Linked DNA regions of Homo sapiens: region 2 is linked to region 1. A link means that fine-mapping ties the variant in region 1 to the expression of a gene that starts in the linked region. Tissue or cell type: whole blood. Region 1 holds a variant in brackets; the other region holds the start of a gene. All regions are shown on one strand. Distances are between the middles of the regions.

What was found. PIP is the estimated chance that this variant, and not a neighbour inherited with it, causes the effect.
Region 2: it holds the start of MRPL22, and the variant in region 1 is fine-mapped to the expression of MRPL22 in whole blood (INTERVAL, PIP above 0.99).

Annotation. Positions count from the first base shown.
Region 1 is chr5:154,890,664-154,894,924 of GRCh38, reverse strand. It overlaps GEMIN5 (gem nuclear organelle associated protein 5), which reads left to right. Exons shown (of 28, transcript NM_015465.5): 25 at 2,376-2,538; 26 at 3,183-3,684. Among named protein-coding and RNA genes, the nearest start is that of CNOT8, 34 kb to the right of the region's middle. The variant A/TTA (reference allele first, on the strand shown) is at 1,670.
Region 2 is chr5:154,938,598-154,942,727 of GRCh38, reverse strand. MRPL22 (mitochondrial ribosomal protein L22) reads right to left here and starts at 1,655. Exons shown (of 7, transcript NM_014180.4): 1 at 1,590-1,655; 2 at 1,463-1,511. The coding sequence starts at 1,617. RefSeq lists an enhancer at 1,556-1,715.

The DNA of each region.
Region 1 (4,261 bases):
TTACTTTTTTTTTTTTTTTAGATGGAGTCTCACTCTGTCACCCGGGCTGGAGTACAGTGGCATGATCTTGGCTCACTGCAATCTCCGCCTCCCAGGTTCAAGCAATTCTCTTGCCTCAGCCTCCCGGGTAGCTGGGATTACAGGCACCTGCCACCATGCCCGGCTAATTTTTTGTATTTTTAGTAGAGACAGGGGTTTCACCATGTTGGCCAGGCTGGTCTCGAACTCCTGACCTCGTGATTTGCCCACTTCGGCCTCCCAAAGTGCTGGGATTATAGGCATGAGCCACTGCAGCCAGCCTATTTTTCAGATTTTTAGTAGAGACAGGGTTTCACCATGTTGGCCAGGCTGGTCTTGAACTTCTGACCTCATGTGATCCACCTGCCTCGGCCTCCCAAAGTGCTGTGATTACAAGTGTGAGCCATCACGCCTGGCCAGGCAGTTTCTTATAAAGTTAAACATGCACATGCCCCATGTCTCAGCAGTTCTGCTACCTAGATATTCCACTAAAACAATGAAATCAGATGGCCACACAAAGACTTGTACACAAATGTTTACAGCAGCTTAGTGCACAGTAGCCAAAAACTAGAAACAACCCAAATGTCCATCAACTGATGAATGGATATGCAAACTGTGTTGTGTCTATGCAGTGAAATACTATACTGTTTAACAATAAAAAGGGCCAGTCTTGGTGGCTCACACCTGTAATCCCAGCACTTTGGGAGGCCAACGCGGGTGGATCGCTTGAGCTCAGGAGTTTGAGACCAGCCTGGGCAACATGGCAAAAACCTGTCTCTAGTAAAAATACAAAAATTAGCCGGGTGTGGTAGCACAAGCCTGTAATCCCAGGTACTAGGGTGGCTAAGGCAGGAGAATCATTCAAATCTGGGAGACGGAGGCTGCAGTGAGCCAAGATGGAACCACTGCACTACAGCCTGGGTAAGAGAATGAGACCCTGTCTCAAAAAAAGAAAGTAAAAAGGAACAAATTACTGCCACACAAATAATATCGGTGTTAGCCGCGCGTGGTGGCGGGCTCCTGTAGTCCCAGCCACTCTGGAGGCTGAGGCAAGAGAATGGTGTGAACCCAGGAGGCCAAGCTTACAGTGAGCCGAGATCGTGCCACTGCACTCCAGCCTGGGCGACAGAGCAAGACTCCATCTCAAAAAAACAAAGAAGAAGAAGAAGAATATCGGTGAATCTCAAAAGCTTTAAAGACACAAAAGACTATATACTCTGTGGTTCCATTTATATGAATTCTAGAAAAGAAAAAATTAAAGTGACAACCAGTTCAGTGGTTGCCAGTGGGGTGGGGCCAGGAGATCGCCTGCAGAGGAGCCGGAGGGCATATCTTCAGTTGATGAAAATGTTCTGTCTTGATTTTGCTGGTAGTGTTGTAACTATATATGTTTCTCAAACTACATACTTAAAATTGAGCACATTTTTCTTAGTTGTACTCCAAGCTTTGTTTTGTTTTGTTTTTGGTGGGTTTTGATTTTTTTTTTTTGAGACAGCGTCTCACTCTGTCACCCAGGCTCGGGTGTAGTGGCTTACTGCAACCTCCGCCTCTCGGGTTCAAGCAATTCTTCCGCCTCAGCCTCCCAAGTAGCTGGGATTACAGGCGTGCACCACCAAGCCCGGCTAATTTTTTTTTTTTTTTTTTTTTTTTT[A/TTA]GAGACGGGCTTTCACCTCGGGTGATCCGCCCGCCTCAGCCTCCCAAAGTGATGGGGTTATAGGTGTGAGCAACTGCACCCAGCCTTTATTTTGTTTTTAATTACAGCTTTTAGTTCCAGAAACTCACTTTTTGTTTTTGTTGTTTGTTTGTTTGTTTTGAGAGGGAGTCTCACTCTCATGCTCAGACTGGAGTGCAGTGGCGCAATCTCAGCTCACCACAACCTCCACCTTCCGGGTTCAAGCAATTCTTCTGTCTCAGCCTCCCGAGTAGCTGGGACTACAGGCACGCGCCATCATGCCTGGCTAATTTTTGTGTTTTTAGTAGAGGCGGGGTTTCACCATGTTGGCCAGGCTGGTCTTGAACTCCTGACCTTGTGATCTGCCCACCTTGGCCTCCCAAAGTGCTGGGATTACAGGCATGAGCCACCGCGCCTGGCCCACTTTTTGTTTTAATTAAATGCAAATGTAAAGGTGTTTTCTCAGTGTGAACAGACTTTAACACCGGGACGTGTGTGTGCTGCTGTGCAACTAGACATGAGAGTTTCCGATGTGGGAAGCAAAAATGGGTGGCGGAGACAAGAGGAACTTTCAAAGTGTGAATTGTGTGTACTTGTTTCCAAATGCGGTTCACAGGAACAGTTTGGTGGCATCCTCTGCGCCTACCGTGGGAGGATGTTTAACTCAGACTCTGGCTTCTCTCTCCAGCTCCTGCTTCACATTTGCCATGACTTGACCCTGGCAGTGCTGAGCCAACAGATGGCCTCCTGGGACGAGGCTGTGCAGGCGCTCCTTCGGGCGGTGGTCCGGAGCTATGACTCAGGGAGCTTCACCATCATGCAGGAAGTGTACTCAGCCTTTCTCCCTGACGGTAAGTGACTTCCTGCTGCCTGAGGCACACCCTTTAATGGACAACATCACCACCATTAGTGGTGTGGCACTGGGAGTACCTAGATTCTTAAAAGATGGAGATTGGCCAGCTGTGTCATTTTAGTAGAAAGTTTGGATTCTCTTACCGAAGCTTTTAAGAACAACTATACTGTTTCCTTTACCTGGCCCTACCCTCTTACAGCCTCCTGTCCACTTTCCACAAAGTTTAAGGGAGAGAGAAATAGGAATGTAGTTACATGTTAGTAAGAACAGAAAAGAACAGCAAAAAAGATAGACATTCCTTGGGCTGCATAGTCAGTCACTGAACTAAATCATTGTGATTTTTCAGAGAGACAGTGTGATCTGTTGTCGTGGCCCCAGAGCCTTCAGTAGTACAAATGGAATACTCTATCATGCTTTGAATGACTCCTAGGATGTAGTAATGAGAACACTGTCGCAAGCCAGGAAATGTTTAGCCTCCAGTTGGCTCTTGGTGGAAAGGCATGTGGCCCGGTGGATCACACTGTTGTCCTTTTTCCTGGGGTCTGCTTCTTGGTTGATAAGAAATAGAACATAAGGGCAGGAAGCCACATTTCTGGCAACTAGAGAAATGCATGACCCAGTATCTTTTTCCTCTTTTCCTAGGCTGTGACCACCTAAGAGACAAGTTGGGGGACCATCAATCCCCTGCCACACCAGCTTTCAAAAGTTTGGAGGCCTTTTTTCTTTATGGGCGTCTGTATGAATTCTGGTGGTCTCTCTCCAGACCTTGCCCAAATTCCAGTGTCTGGGTAAGGGCTGGTCACAGAACACTCTCTGTTGAGCCAAGCCAGCAGTTAGACACTGCCAGCACTGAAGAAACGGACCCTGAAACTTCTCAGCCAGAGCCAAACAGGCCTTCAGAACTAGACTTGAGACTCACAGAAGAAGGTGAGCGAATGCTGAGTACTTTTAAGGAGCTCTTTTCAGAAAAGCATGCCAGTCTCCAAAACTCACAGAGAACTGTTGCTGAAGTCCAAGAGACCTTGGCAGAAATGATCCGACAACACCAAAAGAGTCAACTCTGTAAATCCACAGCAAATGGTCCTGATAAGAATGAACCGGAAGTAGAAGCAGAGCAGCCCCTCTGCAGTTCTCAGAGCCAGTGGTAAGTACTGAGGCAAGTACAAGACGGAATGAAAAATGACCCTGCTGGCTAGGAACAGTGGTTCATGCCTATAATCCCAGCACTTTGGGAGGCTGAAGCAGGAGGATCACTTGGCCCAGGAGTTCACCACCAGCCCGGGCAAAAAAGCGAGACCCTGTCTCTACAAAAAAAAAAAAAAAAAAAAAGCCCGGGCACAGTGGATCACGCTTGTAATCCCAGCACTTTGGGAGGCCGAGGTGGGCAGATCACTTGAAGTAAGGAGTTTGAGACCAGCCTGGCCAACATGGTGAAACCCCGTCTCTACTAAAAATTAGCTGGGTATGGTGGCACATGCCTGTAATTCCAGCTACTTGGGGGGCTGAGGCCAGAGAATCGTTTGAACCTGGGCAGCAGAGGTTGCAGTGAGTCAAAATCGCACCAGTGCACTCCAGCCTGGGCAACAGAGGGAGACTTCATCTCAAAAAATACAAATAAAGTAACCAGGTGTGGTGGCATGTACCCTGTAGCTACTTAGGAGGCTGAGGCAGGAGGATCACTTGAGGCCAGGAGCTCAAGTTCAGCCTGGGCTACATATTGA
Region 2 (4,130 bases), 48 kb before region 1:
TAGAAGGCACACATGCTAAAAGGAAGGAAAAACTAATTTCTTTCCGTTTTAGAGAAACCAGTGAAAACTTCCTGAAGGGAAAACATCTGAACAGAGGTTTGAATAATGGGTAGGACTGCTGTTATAGACAAGATGTGAGGGCATAGTAGGAAAAGCCAAGAAGCAAGTAAGTGCAAAGTATATTCAGAAAAAGTAAGTAAATCAGCATGGTTGGGGGAAGAGTGATAGAAGATTATCTAAGAAGAGTACAGACAAATCCTAAGAGCTACTACTTCCTATTTTCTTCTTTAGCCCACCTCTTTATCCCCCTCGGACCCAAAAACTTAGAAAAGGGTTAAATATAATTGGGAACTCAGTAATAATTTATAATAATAAAAACATTAATGGCAACTAGAATTCAGAGTGGGATTATCACATGCCATAAACATACTAAATACTTCATATGCATTATCTTGTTTGAATTTCCTTTTTAAAATCTACTAGAGCTACATAGATGGCATGTGCCTGTAATCCCAGTACTTCAGGAGGCTGAGGCAAGAGAATTGTTTCAGCCCTTAAGTTTGAGACCAGCATGGGCAACATAGCAACACTTCATCTAAAAAAATAAATAAATAAAAATTAAAAAATTTTTTAAATCCTAAGAGATAGGTACTAACATAACGCTCATATCATAAAAGTGATAACTGAAGCTTATTAAGAATAAGTAACTTTTCCAAGATCACAGTTAAAAAATGGATTCATATACAACTCATCTGTCTGCAAAGCCTATGAACTAAACCAAAATCAATGCTAACAAATGGACAGACCAGAAAATTTACAATCAGATTATCAATTTTCAAATACCGATTTTTTATTTTGGGGAGAAATACAGCGACTACTTACCCTAACCTTTAATGAATGCTTTTGTCCTAAGGCTACAGAATGCTCTGGTATAAAGCTTCAAAATTTCCTACAACTGAGTGGCCTTAGGCAAGTTATTTTACGTTTGGGGACTTCAATTTCCTTGTCTGAAAAACGGGTATAGCAGAACCTACTCGTAGAATGTTATGAGAGTGAGTTAAAGCATATAAACCGCTAAACACAATGTCAGGTACGACGTAAAGCAGAGTTGTCCACAACACGGTCCCTGCCCATGTAAGCAAGTAATCAGAGAGGTAACTTGAAAAGTTGGACGCTTCCATATGGAGATGGAATAGTCTAACCTTGTCCAGAAAGATCACAGTAGACGTTCGGAAATCGCATTTACAATCGCCCTTGGGTTATGGGTAATCCTGATCCCTGTACAGTTTATGCAATAAGGTGGAGAAAAAATAGAGTGACAAAGCAGAGACTCGGGCTGTCTCATTCGCCTCAGTAACCCCAGAGCCTAAAACACAGTTAGGCACGGAGGCGCTCAGTTACCAACTGGCAGAATACTAAAGATGCCTTGGGCCCTTCCGAAACTCCGAAGCGAGAGACTCACCCCAAGGCCAGCTTCCCCCGGCTCCTCAGGTTATGTATCCATAACGCACCTGCAACATCAACACAAGCCGTCAACTCAGATTCCATCTCGACTCCCTTCTGTCGCTTAACCACTAAGAAATCCTTACCCAACTGTCCCAGTACTGCCGCCGCCATCTTTCGCCCTCCCGCTACGGAAGCCGCCGAGTTCAAGCGCCTTCTGGACAGCACGCATGCGCAATACTCTGGATTTCCTGTGGGGCTCTCCCACAAGCAGTACTTACACCCCAGGTGCCGTCACGAAGATCGCAAGCACTGGGCCGGCGCTCGAGGTGTGGTCAGGCGAACCTGGCTTGGGAATGAATTAATTAATAAAGGCCGAAAGCACGTGGGCTTCCGAAAATTCACCTGGATTCAGAAAAACTAAAGTCCCAACTCACAAACTAGAAAGGAGTAGGGGAACAGAATCCGTGAACAAGCCACCTAATCCGGTGGTCCTCAGTTTTCTTATCAGAAATGACTAACCTTAGGGCACAAGCTTGTTGTAAAGATCAGTTGAAATAGTGTGAAAGCTATTTTATTTCATTTTATTGAAACAGGGTCTCTCTCTCGCTTAGGCTGGAGTGTGGTAGCAATGACCTAGTCTCACTGCAGCCTCGACCCCGGGCTCAAGCCACCCTCTTACCTCAGCCTCCCAAGTAGCTGTGACTACAGGCGCACATCACCACGCCCGGCTAATTTTTGTATTTTTTATAGATAAGGAGTTTCCCCAAATTGCCCAGGCTGATCTCGAATTCCTGGGCTCAAGCAATCTGCCCTCCTCGGCCTCCCAAAGTGCTAGGATTAGAGGTATGAGCCACGAAACCTAGCCTAAAATCTCTTTTAAAGAGCAAATAGTTCAAATATGATGTATGCTGTCCTAATCCCTACTAATCTGGTTGACCTTCAAGAATGAGTTTATATTCATCTGGCATTTACTGCCTTATGTCAGGCAGGTATTTCACTAAATCTCATTTATTCCTCACAGCAATCCAACAAGGCATGGATTATCATTTTCCTTCTTCAAATGAGGAAACATATTTAGGATATGTTAAAGTCTCTCAACTAACAACTGGCAAACCAGTGATCAATCTACGACTAGGTGCCTCCAAATTTGTGCCCCTAGACGCCTTCAAATATATGTATTTGACCCCTCTGTATTAGAATAACAGGTAGTTCAGATTGCGGTTTGCTACCTATGCAGGAATGTCAGATACCCAATGCAAACAAGCAACACACGAGTAGTGCAGAATCTGAGCATTTTAGCATTTTTGAGTTGAAAGGAAACTTTCTTCCACACCATTTACCACATACAGCTTCCTTCACACAGCTGGCCCTCAATCAAGCAAATCAAGAGTCACTCCATTTGCTTCTCCTTCATCTTTGAGTACCCAGAACCCAGAGCCAGAATTTCCACCCAGTTGCAGAAACTGTTCTTTCCCTTTTTAATTCCAGATTCGTACTTTCATATTTTTGTTTGTTTTGTTTTTTTGAGACAGGGTCTCACTCTATTGCCCAGGCTTGAGTGCAGTGGCTCGATCACAGCTCACACCAGCCTGTCTCCCGGACTCCATATTGTAATGCCCAACCTTGTTTTTACTAACCCTGTTTTTAGACTCTCCCTTTTTCCTCTGATCACCTAGCCTTGTTTCCACTTGAATTGACTCTTGCTTAGCTAAGAGAGCCAGACAGACTCCATCTTGGCTCTTTCACTGGCAGCCCCTTCCTCAAGAACTTAACTTGTGCAAGCTGACTCCCAGCACATCCAAGATGCAATTAACTGATAAGATACTGTGGCGAGCAATATCCGCAATTCCCAGGAATTCGTCTGATTGATAGCACCCAAAGCCCCCAGTCTATCACCTTGTAATAAATAGTCTTAAAGCCCCTGCACCTGGAACTGTTTACTTTCCTGTAACCATTTATCCTTTTAACTTTTTGCCTACTTTATTTCTGTAAAATTGTTTTAACTAGACTCCCCTCCCCTTTCTAAACCAAAGTATAAAAGAAAATCTAGCCTCTTCTTCCGGCTGAGAGAACTTTGAGCGTTAGCCATCTCTTGGCCACCGGCTAAACAAATGGACTCTTAATTCGTCTCAAAGTGTGGCGTTTTCTCTAACTCACTCAGGTACAACAATATTTTTGTTAAGTGGCCTCTTGTGCATATCTTTTTTTGTTTTGTTTTGTTTTTATTTGAGATGGAGTCTCGCAATGTCGCCCAGGCTGGAGTGCAGTGGCGCAATCTCTGCTCACTGCAACTTCCGCCTCCCAGGTTCAAGCGATTCTCCTGCCTCAGCCTCCCTAGTATTTGTTGTCTAGGGATTGTTGCATTTTACTTTTTTTTTTTTTTTGAGATGGAGTCTCGCTGTGTGGCCAGGCTAGAGTGCAGTGGCGTGATCTCCGCTCACAGCAACTTCCGCCTCCCGGGTTCAAGCGATTCTCCTGCCTCAGCCTCCCGAGCAGCTGGGATTACAGGCGCCTGCCACCACACCCGGCTTATTTTATTATTTTATTTTATTTTTGTTTTTTAATAGAGACGAGGTTTCACTATGCTGACCAGGCCGGTCTTTTAACTCCTGACCTCGTGATCCTCCCGCCTCGGCCTCCCAAAGTGCTGGGATTACAGGCGTGAGCCACCGCACCCGGCCTCT